Linked DNA regions of Homo sapiens: all the other regions are linked to region 2. The links come from fine-mapping of genetic effects on gene expression. A gene starts in region 2. Each other region holds a variant in brackets. All regions are shown on one strand. Distances are between the middles of the regions.

Region 1 (5,227 bases), 890 kb after region 2:
GATACAAAGCCACATCCTTTCATATCTTTGCTTTGAAGGAGTCTGTGTTTTAAAATCTTCCTATATCCCTGCTGAGTAGGCTGAGCTAGAGGACATGAACAAGACCTTAAGGGCAAGATTTGATAATAAAACTCATGGTGGAATGGGACCCAGTCATTTATGGAGGGCAGTCATAGATGCTGTCTGCTTCCAGAGTGTTATGACACGGTCAGCATGTTTTTATGGTACATAGTGACAAAGACTCTCCCTGACCAAACTAGTCAGGCTTCTTTGAACCCTGTGCTCAACTAGGCCTTGGCCTTCCCTCCTGGCAGAATCCAGTATTAGCAAGAATCCTGCTAGGTCAGTTTAGCAAGAGCCCTCACGCCCTTGATCTCTGATCACCCTGGCCTGCTCTTAGCAAGAATCCTGTGTGGTCAGTCCAACAAAAATGCCCCCTGTCCTTGATGTCTCCTGTTAGTAATTTTCCCTCTGCCAACATCCATCCCCATCCCACCTGCTCCTTGGCTAGAGATTTCCACTTTTTCTTGTATTTGAAGTGGAGCCCCATCTCTCCCCGGTTGCTTGCTACAGTCTTGACACCTATTGCAATAGTCCTGAATAAAGTCTTGAATGAAGTTTTCCTTACCATTTTAGCAAGTGTCGGAATAACTTTTCTTTAACAATTGAAGTGGTTCAAGGAGTTGGAAATGAGGTGACCTGAGCCTAAAGTGGATCCTGGTTTGTCCAGAAGTTTCTTGTTTTTTTTTTTTGCACTAAAAAGCTACTTCTAAGAGACTAAAGCTCTAGGCTCTGGAACATTCAGAAATAGTTTGTTGTGTAAGCCACCAAGTCTATGGCATTTTTGTCATAGCAGCTGGAGCTATGACAGTGTGTAAACTTTGTCTTTTCATGATTGAATTAATGTGAGTATTTTATGTGCAGAATGTGTTGTGGTGTAAGAATGGAGATGGTGAGCAAAGAAGCTAAGGGCTCCAAGATGAACACTTTTGTACACTTCTGACTGCTGTAGAAACACATCGCTTATCTGAACTGTCAGTACCTCGGACTCTTTACCAGGGAAAAAGGATTGGCAATTTGTTTTGATCATCACACTGAATAGCAGTGGAAAATGCCTAATAATTTTGAACTGAGATGTAAGGTTGATAGGATAAAAACAGGAGGGGAGCTTAGGCATCCAAAGACATTATCAAACTAGAATTAAAGAAAACACAAGTAACGGACCAAAGGCTTTAGAGGCGCTACAACATGCAGTTGGTTGCTTCACATGAATAACTTTCTCCTTCCCTCTCCCTCTTCCAGTCTGAACCTCATCTGACTTATTTGCATTTTGATCCCAAAGGGAAGATCTCAATGTTTAGAAAAATCCCTCATTTTTTGCTGTTACTCATAAATGATCAATAGCCACAATAATGAAAAACATAACAGGAAGTTCTTTTTGGCAGTCATTCCTAACAATTTCGGGACGACTGCTCAGCTGTTTATGATACAAAGCTGTTTAATTTTGGGAAACTGTAACACAGGTAAAATATGGTCTCAAAATGAAGTGATTGAGGCTTTTGAATGTTTTTTAACTCTACGGTTGGCCTTTTTAGACTCACAGGCACTGAACTCCTTATCAGCCTGTTTTAGACACCAGTCAAACCAGTTGTGTTTTAAAATGCATCTGGCAGGCATTATAACCATACTAAGATGACTTCATTCTAACAGTCCTGCCTCAGGCAGAAGGTTGCTTCCTGAAATGCTCTGGCAATTACAGAATCTTAATACTATATTCACTTAGACAAAGTGTCTCTCTTTTTCAGATATACATATTTATTAATTCCCAAAAGTCTACAATGGTAAGTCAGCCCCCTACTTTCATTCTCTTGGAGACTGAATATTTCCTGACCACCTGCTCTAAATCAGAAGACTGAGTAACCTTCTAATAACACATCAGTTACCCACTTCTGAGGCCTCTTTGATTCCCAAATTTCAGTGTGCATCACCTGCACAGCTTGTCAGATCATGGTTTCCTCAGTCTCATTGCAAGATTTTGTTTTAATAGGACAGAGTTGGGTCCTGAGACTGATTTTCTAACACATTCCTCAGTGATGCTGACACTAACTGTCCATGAACCATGACGTGGAAGACACCAAAAGGACTTTCCATCTTGGACTTGAAGTGATAGTAGGCTATGAATCCTCATCCTGAGGGTTCGTGAAAGCCTGTTCCAAGCAGCGTACGTGGGCACCATGACCCGCACTGCCATACCATTTTTACTTGTACTGCCATCCCAGTAACATACTCTGCTGCAGGAGCCAAGAGTTAGCAGCAGTGTTAAATATCAAGTTTCCCATGGCCCTGGTCAGACAAGTTCCAAAGCTCATGGTGAGATACAGGGCTCTCTGGGCACATACTAGGGATCAGGGCTACATTTTTACAAATTGGTTGGTAAGTCAAAGAAGTAGCCCAGTACAGAAATAGGATGATGAACTCCTTGTGATTTCATTTTTTAAAGACCCACAGGAAGTATACACTCACACATATGCCTATGAAATTATATAAATACATATATACATATATAATCGTATTTAATAATGTATATACACATACAATCATATATAAATACACAATACCTATATAACCATTTAATATATACGTATGCTATCATATGTGTGTGCACACATACGCACCACACACACACAATTAACCCATTAATGCACTTTCACACACATCCATCTTTAAGTTGATGGAACATTTTTTCCCCTCTTATTTATTAGATGCTCATTGCCATTTGTGTCTTAATTTCCTCTTCAAAGCTGCCTTTAATAGTCACCTTTTAAAAATATGTTTCATGTATAAAGATGCTGAGCAGGCTCACGCCTGTAATCACAGCACTTTAGGAGGCGGAGGTGGGCAGATCACAAGGTCAGGGGATCAAGACCATCCTGACGAACACGGTGAAACCCCGTCTCTACTAAAAATACAAAA[A/C]AATTAGCCGGGTGTGGTGGCGGGCGCCTGTAGTCCCAGTTACTCGGGAGGCTGCGGCAGGAGAATGGCGGCGTGAACCCGGGAGGCGGAGCTTGCAGTGACCCAAGATCGCGCCCCTGCACTCCAGCCTGGGTGACAGAGAGAGACTCTGTCTCAAAAAAAAAAAAAAAAAAAAAAAAAAATGCTGAGCAGTTTGGGGCTAGTGGTGTGGTACAATGTGATATTGCTTGCTGGGCACTTTCTATCAGGGCACCTGACACTGGCAGAGAATGGCTACCATGTCCCTATTCTATGTGAGAGGAAGCCTAGAGGAAGAAGCTGGTCTCTGAATTCTTGCCTCAGGCCTATAGGAAATGTTAACTCCACTAAAGGAAAAATTCTGATAGGAAAGGGATGTCCTTCTCTCTTGAATGTCATCAGAAGGAGAAGTAGGAGCCCCCTAACCTACCTGTTATTCAGAATATGACAAAGGAACATTTTTCCCAAGGATATTATGTCAGAGACATGACTGTTCTCAACAGTATTGTTTTCAACTATTTTCTTAGAGTGCACGAAGGGTCATTTTTATTGGTTCTCAATGTAAACCAGGGTCATAAAGCCAAAGTGCAATTTAGTGAATGCAATTTGATAGAGGAAAGAATTGGAGAATTTCTGAGATTATTGATATTCTTCTATCTGTTGCCCTCTTCCTTGTAAATAGTCCATTTCAGCAACAAAGGTGAAGCCATGGATAGGCTAGCTCTCAGTCCTTTCTTGACATTTATAAAGCTGGGCTGCTTTGTGTGAAGGTCAGGCGGTCTTCCTTTCGGTATGGATTCATGTCTGGCTTCTCCGCTTTCATAAGAGTCCATCAAGTCAAGGCTTAGCTCTGCTCTCTTCCAAGGAGTTGTCAGGGACTAAAAGCCCAAACTCGCTGCTCCCAGTTCAGAGAACCTTATTTGTAGACAACTTCCTAAAGAATATGCTTTTGCCTTTTTCTCTAGACTGTCTAAAATTTGTCTTTGATTCAGTAGCACCACCAGAGAGCTGTTAATATATTAAGATGCTGGTAAAACTATTTCAACTTGACAATACTTCTTATTTGTTGGCTATTATTTTGTTGCCTAATTTAAGACATATCAGTAAGAGCAGAAGGGGTCTACTTATCCCACTGGTTTCATCAGCATCAAAAATAAAGCTCTGAATGGCATTCTTGAGAATTCTGTGATTTAAAATGTTCTCAGAATTCTCTCTTTGTAAGTGAATCATTGACTTAATGAAAATTAAACTGTAATTGTATTTCTAAGTCTATCCAGTGAATACTTATTAAGGCAGTTACATTTATGTTTATGAATTAGGAATTTAACCAATAGCAGTTTTATTGTGCAACTCATGAAACCGAGGGCTCTACATGGACCTCTCTTGGTACAAAATCATATTCATTGAGACTTCAACATGGTATAATACCTATAATTGTAGAACTGCAAATTTTAAGGCTTTTGGAAAAAAACATGCTAAAAGGGAAGTTCATCCTTTGTGCATAGTAAACTTTCTCCCAATTATCAGCTTTCTTATATTCTTGAAAGAAACAACAATGACAGGCTGCGCATGGTGGCTCATGTCTGTAATCCCAGTAGTTTGGGAGGCTGAGGCAGGCAGATCACGAGGTCAGGAGTTCAAGAACAGCCTGGCCAACATGGTGAAAACCCGACTCTACTAAAAAATACAAAAATTAGCCAGGCATGGTGGCACTCTTCTGTAATTTCCGCTACTTGGAAGGCTGAGGCAGGAGAATTGCTTGAACCTGGGAGGCGGTGGTTGCAGTGAGTGGAGATCGTGCTGCTGCACTCCAGCCTGGGTGACAGAGCAAAACTCTGTCTCAAACAAACGAACAAACAAACAAAGAAACAACAATGACAACAAACCCTCTTCATTGTTCTCTTCTCTCTGCCTTTCCAAGCCTCCTGTTCCCAGCTTGGGGGCTGTCTTCCCCTCTCTTCCCATGCAGACCCCTCCCCACTGCAGTGCTCTCAGTCCTCCCTTTCAACAAGGGGCTGGTAATTAGAGGAAGATTCCAACACCTGACTTTTCCCATTGGGTACAGCCACCTAAAAATTGCAATTCTTCACCAGTTCCAACAGCTTTTCAGAAAGGAGAGCCCATCTGGTATTCTGGAGAATATTCTTTTTTTCCAGTGGAATAATTTGTATATCCATCCTACAGGGTTGCTTCATGGTCATGTGACTGCACAAGTACACAGGGCCACGCTCTCTGA
Region 2 (5,227 bases):
TTTTAGTTGAGTATTTGGGGGATCTTGCAGATGGTTGAAAAGCTGTCAGTAAAGTACCAGATCAGCTTTCGGAATCTACAGAAAAGACCCATTTCTCTGAGCGTGGTAACAGTAATAATAGTTAACACTTTCATGGCACTTAGTACATGGATGTTTTGGGACCAGGACATGCAAATCAATATGCTTTTTCCCCAGCATTAATCATGTTGCTCTGCCTATAAGCTAAGGTGCTGGAAGATTATAGTTTTCCTTTTTAGCCTGGAAAAAATGAAAGGATCTTGTATTGTCTCTGCCATAATATGCATTTTAAAGATTAAAGACTAAGAGAATACTTTTAGCAAGGAAAATTATCTGAAACATGCAGTAACCAGCATCCAGAAAATAAAACCACTTTTAATTATCCTATATTTCAAAATAATATGAAATACACAAACAAAGGGGTTGCTCAGGCAAAAGTACAATAAACTGAAATGTGATTTTAATTAACTCACAACCTTTTTACACTTCATCTTGCTTCATTTGTGTGTGTGTCTTGATGGAAGGCAATGAAGAGCACTATCCACTAGTCCAGGATTTAAGGTAAGAGAAGTTAGTTTCAGGAAAGAACGCAACTCCAGGGGCACAGAAACCACCTGAATGACGACACTAGTACCAGCAGAGGGTGCTGGCGTGGCACAAAATTAAGAATTTTCAAGAGGAAGAGGTCTTAGATTGAAAGACAGCAGGTGTGAGGAAAAATGTAATAACTCTATCCACTTGGAGGTCTGAATTCTCCGCTTGCAGATCTGTCTGGGGTTCAGTGATTTCCTGCAATGGCCACATGAATTTTAGGTATCTCCTGAAGCAGAAAAGTGTGACATTTGCTTCTGCGTTTGAACAGGACAGGGAGAAGCCGTGCAGTTTGCCTTCTGTTTCCACTGGAGGACTTTTAGCAATCCCTGGCGTCTGTGACACCTACAGCAGAAGTTCACATGGAGTCCTTACTTTAATTTTTTTAAAAAACAAAACAAGCTATTTTTGTGTTTACTAAAAAAAAAATTGGCCCAGACTGTCAATCCAGGGGAATCACATTTTCTTTTTTCATTTGGCCACCTTAAAAAGAAGGTAACAGGTACCTGGGAACCCACAGGTAATAGAGATTGTGAAAGGTCAGGTGGAGGAGACAAGGCTGGATGCGCTTTATTCAGCGGAGTGCAGCCTCCTTGGCGGTCGCAGCACCAGCCAGCCCAGCCAGGACGTGTAGAAGAGCCCGCCCCCCCCATCCCCTCCGAAGTAGGTCACAGCGAATGCTCCTTTTATGCAGAGTCCCCTGTTGCGATTCCTGCCGCTAGCAGCGCCTCTGCCAACCTGGGCTTTTGAACTGTTCTTTCGGGCGTTCTGGGCTGGGAGTCAATTGACCCACTGGATTCGAATCCAGACTTTCTGGGCCTCAGTTTCCCCCTAGGTTCAACGACAGGGGTGGACAGCCTTACACCAAGGCCTCTTCCCGGCCTCACACGGCGCGGCCAGACGTTCCTTAGTGGTGCGGCAAGGCCCCGCGCTCTGGAAAGGGCCGGCGAGAATGAGACAGCTGGGTCAGCACCAAGGACAAGGGCCCCGGGTCCGCCTGGCGGAGGCGAGGTCACTTCCAGGCGAACCCGGCTGCTGAGCAAGCGTCGGGCGCAGGGTTCCGTGGCCGGGCGGGAGGGCTTGGGGTGCCGGGAGAAGCGCTGTGGGAAGGGGAGCAGTCCCGGGGGATGAGGCAAGGCCGGGCCCCGCGGCGGTCTCGCAGATTCTGCGCCAAGAGGCCAAAGGTGGCTGCTGCGAGCGCGCCGCCCCTCCCTTGAGGCGCCCTGCCGCCTCCCGCGCCCTGCCCTGCCCGGGCCTTGGGGCGCACTCGGTGCTCCCGGCTCTGGAAGCCCCTCAAAGCCCCGCTTCCCTCACTCGTGGACCTCTCCAGCCCCTTTCCTGCCCCAGCGTCGCCTGGCTCCCTGTACCAGGGCTGCTTCTGGACACACCCGTGACTTCGACCCACTCCTGGGGGATGGGGTCCCGCATCGTCTTCCTGCAACCCCCATCCCAACTCCCTGCGGGGAAAGAGGCCCCACTCCCCGATGCTCCAGAGCCGGGGCCGCCAGGCGCCCCGCCCCCCGCTCGCCCCGCCCCGCCCCGCCCCGCAGGCCCCGCCCGCCGTTGCCCGGGGAACCGCGGATCCCGCAGCTGCAGGAGGCGCCCGGCCCGGCGGAGCAGCCCTAGCCGCCACCGTCGCTCTCGCAGCTCTCGTCGCCACTGCCACCGCCGCCGCCGTCACTGCGTCCTGGCTCCGGCTCCCGCGCCCTCCCGGCCGGCCATGCAGCCCCGCCGCGCCCAGGCGCCCGGTGCGCAGCTGCTGCCCGCGCTGGCCCTGCTGCTGCTGCTGCTCGGAGCGGGGCCCCGAGGCAGCTCCCTGGCCAACCCGGTGCCCGCCGCGCCCCTGTCTGCGCCCGGGCCGTGCGCCGCGCAGCCCTGCCGGAATGGGGGTGTGTGCACCTCGCGCCCTGAGCCGGACCCGCAGCACCCGGCCCCCGCCGGCGAGCCTGGCTACAGCTGCACCTGCCCCGCCGGGATCTCCGGCGCCAACTGCCAGGTGAGTGGAAGCGGCGGGCGCGGTGCGGGGCGCTGGTCCGGGACCAGCAGCCTCTTCCCGCCGGCCCTGCTGCTGCTGCCCGACAATGGGCACGCCTGACACAGGCTTTCCCACTTTGGGAAGAAGATGGATCCAGTCTCTTGGCCCGCGTGGACGCGGACCCCCGGGCCGACCCTGATTCCCTTACCCGCCCTGGTTCCCGGGCGGGGCCAGCCGGGCTCTCGGGGTGTGCCGCTCCGGGGCTCGGCACTTCTCGCGCGGGGCTCTAGACGCTCCGGTTGGCCACTGAGTGGCGCGCCCCTCCAGGCCGGGCCGAGCCAAGAACCACTTGAGCGGTGCCCGCCTTGGCAGCGCGGAGGAGCCGGCTCCGAGCGTCCCCGGCGAGGTGTTCAATGTCCAGGTGGTCCACGCTCCACGTCCGGCTGGACCCTGTGTGTGTAAAGGGTGTGCGGTGTGGGAGGCAGGTGATGGTGGGCCCCGTGCCAGGTGGTGGGGCACTTTCTCCTTCTCTTCCTACGCCCTTGAGGGCTGTGACAAAGCAGCCAGAGGACGAGGAGGGCAGCTGCCTCCCCTCGGCCTGCGACCAGCCCTCTCTAAGCTTAGGAGCAGTGTTGGAACAGTCGGAGGCATTCGAGGGGGCATTGTACGTGGCGCTGGCAGGGCCGCCCTTCCTGCCGGACGCTCCACGGGGCGCACGCTTGGGGCTGGCAGCCGGGGCGTGAGCAGGGCACCGGGAAGCCGCCAGAAAGCGTGGGGGCGGTGCGAGGGATGGGACGATGGGATGTAGCCAGCAGCCGCCCGTGAATTTGGGGTTTTCAGGAGAATTTGGCAGAAAATAATATCTGGGGCTTTTACAAGTCCGTTAAAGCTCTGTGAAACCTATTAACATCAACATTTCCAGTAGGCAATTTGGTAGGACTGTGTGTACGGGTAGAAAATCCCCAAACCTGTATTGCAGGGTAGGGCAAATAATGAAGTTATCTGAAATGATTACATTAAACCACATGAATATGGACGATATTTGGGATCAGATACTATCTTCCTTACATTTAGGGTGGAGGAGTTTGTTTCATATAAATTTGATAACAATGATTGGAGAGTTACTTTGAGAATGCTCAAATAGGTTCTTTCAATGGGGAAAAAGGCTGCCCTTTCATTATGACAGGTTTTACATTTTTTAGAGGTAAATGGGATTGAGAAACTTGACCTTGACAGCCAGATTTTTTTGCATTTATCTAGAATCTTTTTATTTCATTTAATAGCAAATTAGCAAACTGAATCTATCTTTTCAACACTGTGCTCTTCCTCTTTGTTTACTGGTTACAATAAGCTTTAGTTACTTGAAGGGAGGTGATGAGGAGGAGGAAGAATTTGTGTGATGTGAGCCTCAGGAGTAGATTTGGGACATGATAGCTTCTTGGGGGAAATGCCTGTTGGAGCCATTCTAACCATTAGAACAAAATCTTGCTTTTGCAAAAGTCAAAATAACTGCAAATCAAAAACCAAGGAATGCACTCACGCTAATTTTCCCTGTGGATTGATGATTTATATGACTTTTCCTGAAGAAATGAATTGTCTGAGTGTGTCCATCAAACTGCTGTTATATTCACACGTCTGAATTTTATCCTTCAAAGAAATAGTTGATTTGGACCTAGGGTTTAGTGGGAATGGATGGGAGAAGGTAGGTTAGAGTGCCCATCGATTTACATGAGAAGAAAGACTCACTGGGAATTTAACACAACTCTGAGATGGTTTTTGGTGACTCTAAAAACAGATATAAGACATCTTCAAGAAAAAGAGCTCTTTAGTGCCACCTAAAGATGACTAACAGCGAAACATAAATATTTTGATTTGTCCTAAGTAGTGACTTGATGTATAATATAATTCATTCCGAAGAGTCAGGAACTAATACATAACATTGCAGGACCAACTGGATCAAAACAGATTCAGATTTCTTTTGTAGCTCCCATTGGAGGTAGGCTTAGCTGTGTGAACACCATCCACCTGAGCAGAAGCAATACTGCATGCCCTGGTGTGTGAGTTGGAGAGAGCGGTGAAGTTACTGTAATCCTCATAGGAAAGCTTAGTGAACTTGGAACTTGATTGGACTTGGTTACCCAGAAAAACTTACTGAGATGATTCAGGGCCTTACAATCCATAAAAATGGATTCCTGATGATTTTAATTTAATCGTTCATGATCTCGCAGTAAGACTTGAGACTCATTTTTCATGGGAACAGCAAAGAACACAAAAGACAATTTCAGAAGAGAAGTTAAACCTGGGGTGGTGGGGAGGGGAGGGGAGAGAGGGAGAGAGAAACTACACATACTCAATTACAGATAAGGAAATTGGATCTTAGCCACTGCAGACTATGTGGTTGCTGAAATAGAACCTTGTGCTCACTGGATAAATTGGAAATGGAATTTTACCTGGATGTAAAGAGGATCTTTTAACAGAGCGTCACTCCTCCTTCTCCAAAGACAATAGTGTTAGCAATGGTAACATTAGAACCTAACCTTGAAGTTTCTTTCTGTGTGTGGGGAAATTTTGAGAAAATCATAAACTACGAATTAGGATTAAAATGGCTGTCTTTAGGCTTTTTTAAAAAAGGATGTCTTTAGC
Region 3 (5,227 bases), 35 kb before region 2:
CACCGCCATGCCCAGCTAATTTTTGTATTTTTAGTAGAGACGGGGTTTCACCATGTTGGTCAGGCTGGTCTCAAACACCTGACCTTGTGATCCACCCTCCTTGGCCTCCCAAAGTGCTGGGATTACAGGCCTAAGCCACCGCGCCCGGCCGACATTTTTCTTCTTAAGGACACCTCACACAGTTCCCTAAATACCCAGTGGCCTTCCTGTCATATCCCTTTGATATGATGCCAAGATTCCTCCTTGCTTTCCCTCAAATACCTGATATCTTGTCACAGATTTATATGTTCCCTCTTCTCATGGTAGTACTTACACCAAAAGAATGATATCCTGTGTGGTCTGGCTGACACATACCGGTGTGAGATGCTCTCTGGTTATAGACACTTAACCTGCGTCCTCAGAGTCAGAGACTGTGTTCACTTTCTTGGCCACCTCTTCATACCGTTAGTTAATGTTGAGCCTGGGGTTGATGTCACCTCTCAATCTACTTTTCCCAGCTCAATGTTTCCAACTGTCTGTGACCCATTTTATTTTATTTTATTTTATTTTATTTTATTTTATTTTATTTTATTTTTGAGAAAGAGTCTGTCACCCAGGCTGGAGTGCAGTGGTGCAATCTCAGCTCACTGCAACCTCTGCCTCCTGGGTTCAAGTGATTCTCATGCCTCAGCCTCCCAAGTAGCTGGGACTACAGGCGTCTGCCACCAAGCCCAGCTAATTTTTGTATTTTTAGTAGAGAGGGGGTTTCACCATGTTGGCCAGGCTGGTCTCGAACTCCTGACCTCAACTGATCCACCTGCCGTGGCCTCCCAAAGTGCTGGGATTACAAGTGTGAGCCACCACGCCCGGATGTGTGATCCACTTTAGACCTCATTCCTGGGCATCTTCGAAGTTTACAATGTAAACTTTTCTTCTTAATAAGTAAAGATAATGACAGCATTTGTGGTAGGCACAGAGAGAAATTTCTATTCTCTGTGGGAGGCAGAGCAGCAGGTAGGCCATAGAGCTCAAGCTTCAGAGGCAGATGAGTGGGCTCATGCCTGGCAGGGCTGGGTACCAGTTGCACAGCCTTGGGGAAGTGACTTTGCTCACCTTTCCTCACCTGAAGGCTGAGAATACTGAGAATGCACTCCTCACGATTAAATGACATCATTTAAATAAGCTGATTTAGGTAGGAACTGACTAGACAAAACATACGTCTCTGCAAAACATTTGATAAGGCCTCTGAAGATATCCTTGTAGGTAAGGGAAGAAATATTGTTTCTACCAACTCCCTATCTCTTGAGATGGAAATACTTGACCAACATGAATTCATCTAAACACACTAGAGGGTGGTTAGAACAGTCCTCATAGTAAGCACTCAGTACCTGCTAGCACTTATTGTTTTTAGTCATTTTTATACTATTTTTCCAATTTGCAGTATTTCTCCCTCACCTCCTCTTCCTCTCTCCTTTCATTCCCTCTACAACCTCCTCACCATAATGCTATTGTAATAGTCAGTTCCTATGGTGCTATACAGAAATACCTGAGGCTGGGTGCATGGCTAATGCCTGTAATCACAACATTTTGGGAGGCTGAGGCAGGAGGATTGCTTGAGCCTGGGAGTTCAAGACCAGCCTGGGCAACATGTTGAAACCCCATCTCTACAAAAAAGTAAAAAAAATTAGCCAGGTGTGGTGGCACGCACTTGTAGTCCCAGCTACTCAGGAGGCTGAGGTGAGAGGATCACTTGCGCCCAGGAGGTGAAGGCTGCAGTCAGCTGTGTTCATGCCACTGCACTCCAGCCTGGGTGACAAAGTCTCAAAAAAAAAAAAAAAAAAAAAAAGAAGAAGAAAAGAAAAAAAGAAAAAAAATCTGAGACTGGGTAATGTATAAAGAAAAGAAGTTTAATTGGTTCATGGTTCTGCAGGGTAGGCAGGAAGCAGCCCCCTGGTCAGGGCCTCAGGAAGCTTCCAGTGCTGGTGGAAGTGGGGTCAGGAGTCTCACATGGCGAGTGAGGAAGTGAGAGAGGGAAGGGGGAA[T/C]CTCCAAACTTGTAAACAACAAGATCTCATGTGAGCTAACTGAGGCAGAGCTCACTCGTCACCAAGGGGCTGGTGCTGAACCATTCATGCGGGACCCGCCTCCATGACAAAATCACCTCCCAGCAAGCTCCACCTCCCACACCAGGGATCACATTTCAACATGAGATTTAGAGGGGACAAATATCCAAATTATACCAGCTACCTACCCCACGGACACCTAGAATATTAATGTTAGAAGTACCCCGTGTTTTTCTTCTGTACCTATCTTCTTCTTCTTTTTTTTTTTTTTTTTTTTTTTTTTGAGATGGAGTCTCGTTCTTTCACCCAGGCTGGAGTGCAGTGGCGAGATCTTGGCTCACTGCAACCTCTGCCTCCCAGGTTCAAGCGATTCTCCTGCCTCAGCCTCCCCAAGCAGCTGGGATTACAGGTGTGCACCACCATGCCTGGCTAATTTTTGTATTTTTAGTAGAAATGGGGTTTCACCATGTTGGTCAGGCTGGTCTCGAACTTCTGACCTCAGGTGATCTTCCCACCTTGGCCTCCCAAAGTGCTGGGATTACAGCCATGAGCCACCACGCCCAGCCTTCTTCTGTACCTATTCTTTCCCCAAGTCATGTCAGGCCCCAAAACTTAGGTACTGTTGAGTTTTGGGGCCTGACATGACTTAACATTGTCTATGTTAAATAGATGTTGTTGAATGTGGCCCACTGTCCAAATGTATCAAAATCTTTTGAGGTCCTGACTTGGTCATGACACACATTTATCTATTATCTCTCCTGATTTTAAGTCTCTCACACATTGTGTCAATGTGAGAGGGATGCCAGTGGGAATGGGAGCCACCACAGGACAGGACACACACAGAACTGTCTCCTCCTCAACGGCACCACCTCCTGGGGATTAGGATATTTAACTGGCTAGGACTCCAACCAAATGCACTATATACATCAGCTTCTATTTCTCCATTTCGTCTACAAAGCTCTCACAAGAGGCCTAGAACCTGGCAAACTTTTTGCAGAAATTCTCTTAGGAGCCCCATCTAAAAGGAAATGAAGTCAAGCCAAGACCAGATTTGTTCACGGCAGGCCTGTGTTGGCTTCCAGGGATCAATGCGTTCTTTTATGAAGACTGAGACGTCAGCCCAGAGTTAGCATCTGTCTACCTGTGGTGGATGCCTCCTCTGGAAGTTGAATCTGTGGGTACCAGTGTGTCCAGGATTCTGGCATCTGTTTCACTCTGTCACTGTTCACGAAATCAACAATAGTTTGGTAACCTCATCTGCATTTTTCTGCTAGTCCCTGGGTTGTAGTTACCTAGACTGGACACCCAAACTCCCAAACTTCTTCTATTTTTTTTTTTTTTTTTTTTTTTGAGACAGAGTCTTGCTGTGTTGCCCAGGCTAGAGTGCAGTGGCACAACCTCAGCTCACTGCAGCCTTTGTCTCCTGGGTTCAAGTGATTCTCCTGCCTCAGCCTCCCGAGTAGCTGGGATTACAGGCATGCACCACCACGCCTGGCTAATTTTTTGTATTTTTATTAGAGACGGGGTTTCACCATGTTGCCCAGGCTGGTCTTGAACTCATTAGCTCAAGCCATCTGCCCTCTTTGGCCTCCCAAAGTGCTGGGATTACAGGCGTGAGCCACCGTGCCCGGCCACACCCACGCTTCTTTAAGTGAATCAGATGGGCTTGCCCTGCCATTTCATCTTTCCTAGGTGCTCTTGTGCACTCTGATGAGACTTCCATCTGTCGCACTGGCCTGTACTGATCTGTCTATGTCTATTTTGACCTTAGTCTGTGAGCAACTAAACATGTCTTTCACAGTTTCCTCTTCTTTTTATTTCATTGCTTCACATAACTCCTGGAATATAATGAATGCTCAAAAGACACTGGTGAACTGAAATCAGCAATAATGGCCAACATCCATGGAGGGCTTATTATGTGACAGGAATTGTGCTACATGCTTTATACACAATCACATTTAATTCTCACAATAATACTATGAGGTAAATAGTATTATCCTTATCTCACAGGTGAGGCAGTTGAGGTGTAGAGAAGCTGGTTAATTGCCCAAAGTCATGCAGGGCGACAGAAACAAGATCCAAATCCAGGTAATTTGGCCCCAGGCCCTGAGTAAGTGTTAATGTTCATGAAATTCTGAGGGCAACAGGCTGTTAGTTCTTTCTGTTTTTCCTCTGACATAATGCTTTTTAAAAGTACTTTTTACCTACAAATTTTATGATTTGGATAAAACAGACCAATTCCTGGAAGGACACAAACTACCAAAATCCACACAAGGAGAAACAGGTGATCTGAATAGACTTACATCTGTTAAAGAAATTGAATTAATAATGAATAAACATCCAACAAAAAAAGAATTAGGCCCAGATGGTTTCACTGGTGAATTCTACCAAAAATTTACAGAAGAAATTATACCAACTCACCACAATCTCTTCCAGATAATAGGAGCAGAGGGAACACTTACTCATTCTTTGAGGCCAGCATTTGGCTGATACCAAAATAGCAAAACCAGAAAAAGACATTACAAGAAAGGAAAACTGTAGGTTAATACTTGTCATGAACATATATACAAAAATCCTCAACAAAATAGTAACAAATTGAGTTCAACAATGTATAAAAAGAATTATACACTGTGAACAAGTGGGATTTATTTCACATATGCAAGGCTGGCTCAACTTTCAAAAATCAATTAATATAATCCAGCACATCAACAGGCCAAAGAAGAAGAATCATATGATCCTACCAATTGATGCAAAGCAAGCATTTGATAAACTTCAACACCCATTTATGATAAAAACTAAAAAAGCTCTTAAAAAACTAGGAATGAAGGAACGTTTCTCACTTCCTTTTGTCTGTGTGTGGGGTTGGCGAGGATGCTTAAGATCTATTTCAATTTAACAATACAATACAGTATTATTAACAATAGGCAGCATGCTGCGCATTAGATCCCCTACTGGCATCACTATTTTTTTTTTTTTAAGAGACTACACGTGTGAATGAGCGTGGTGGCTCATGCCTGTAATCCCAGTGCCTTGGGAGGCTGAGGTGGGCGGATCACTTGAGGCCAGGGGTTTGAGACCAGCCTGGTCAACATGGTGAAACCCTGTCTCTACTAAAAATACAAAAATTAGCCAGGTGCGACAGCGCATGCCTGTAACCCCAGATATTTGGGGCTGGCTGAGGCATAAGA

Which allele goes with the higher level. Alleles are on the strand shown, and positions count from the first base shown. SD is a standard deviation of normalised expression in the study named. Not every link is listed here.
With allele A in place of C in region 1, the expression in pancreatic islets of the gene that starts at base 2,198 in region 2 is lower (moderate effect, 0.54 SD a copy in PISA).

What was found. PIP is the estimated chance that this variant, and not a neighbour inherited with it, causes the effect. A credible set is the group of variants that fine-mapping cannot tell apart.
Region 1: its variant is the best candidate, but not a certain one, in a credible set for the expression of DNER in pancreatic islets (PISA, PIP 0.51).
Region 3: its variant is the best candidate, but not a certain one, in a credible set for the expression of DNER in blood mononuclear cells (TOPMed, PIP 0.73).

Annotation. Positions count from the first base shown.
Region 1 is chr2:228,823,713-228,828,939 of GRCh38, reverse strand. No RefSeq gene overlaps it. Among named protein-coding and RNA genes, the nearest start is that of LINC01807, 210 kb to the right of the region's middle. The variant A/C (reference allele first, on the strand shown) is at 2,974.
Region 2 is chr2:229,711,526-229,716,752 of GRCh38, reverse strand. DNER (delta/notch like EGF repeat containing) reads left to right here and starts at 2,198. Exons shown (of 13, transcript NM_139072.4): 1 at 2,198-2,605. The coding sequence starts at 2,330. RefSeq lists enhancers at 742-1,515, 1,516-2,290 and silencers at 2,128-2,187, 2,258-2,367.
Region 3 is chr2:229,746,829-229,752,055 of GRCh38, reverse strand. No RefSeq gene overlaps it. Among named protein-coding and RNA genes, the nearest start is that of DNER, 35 kb to the right of the region's middle. The variant T/C (reference allele first, on the strand shown) is at 2,022.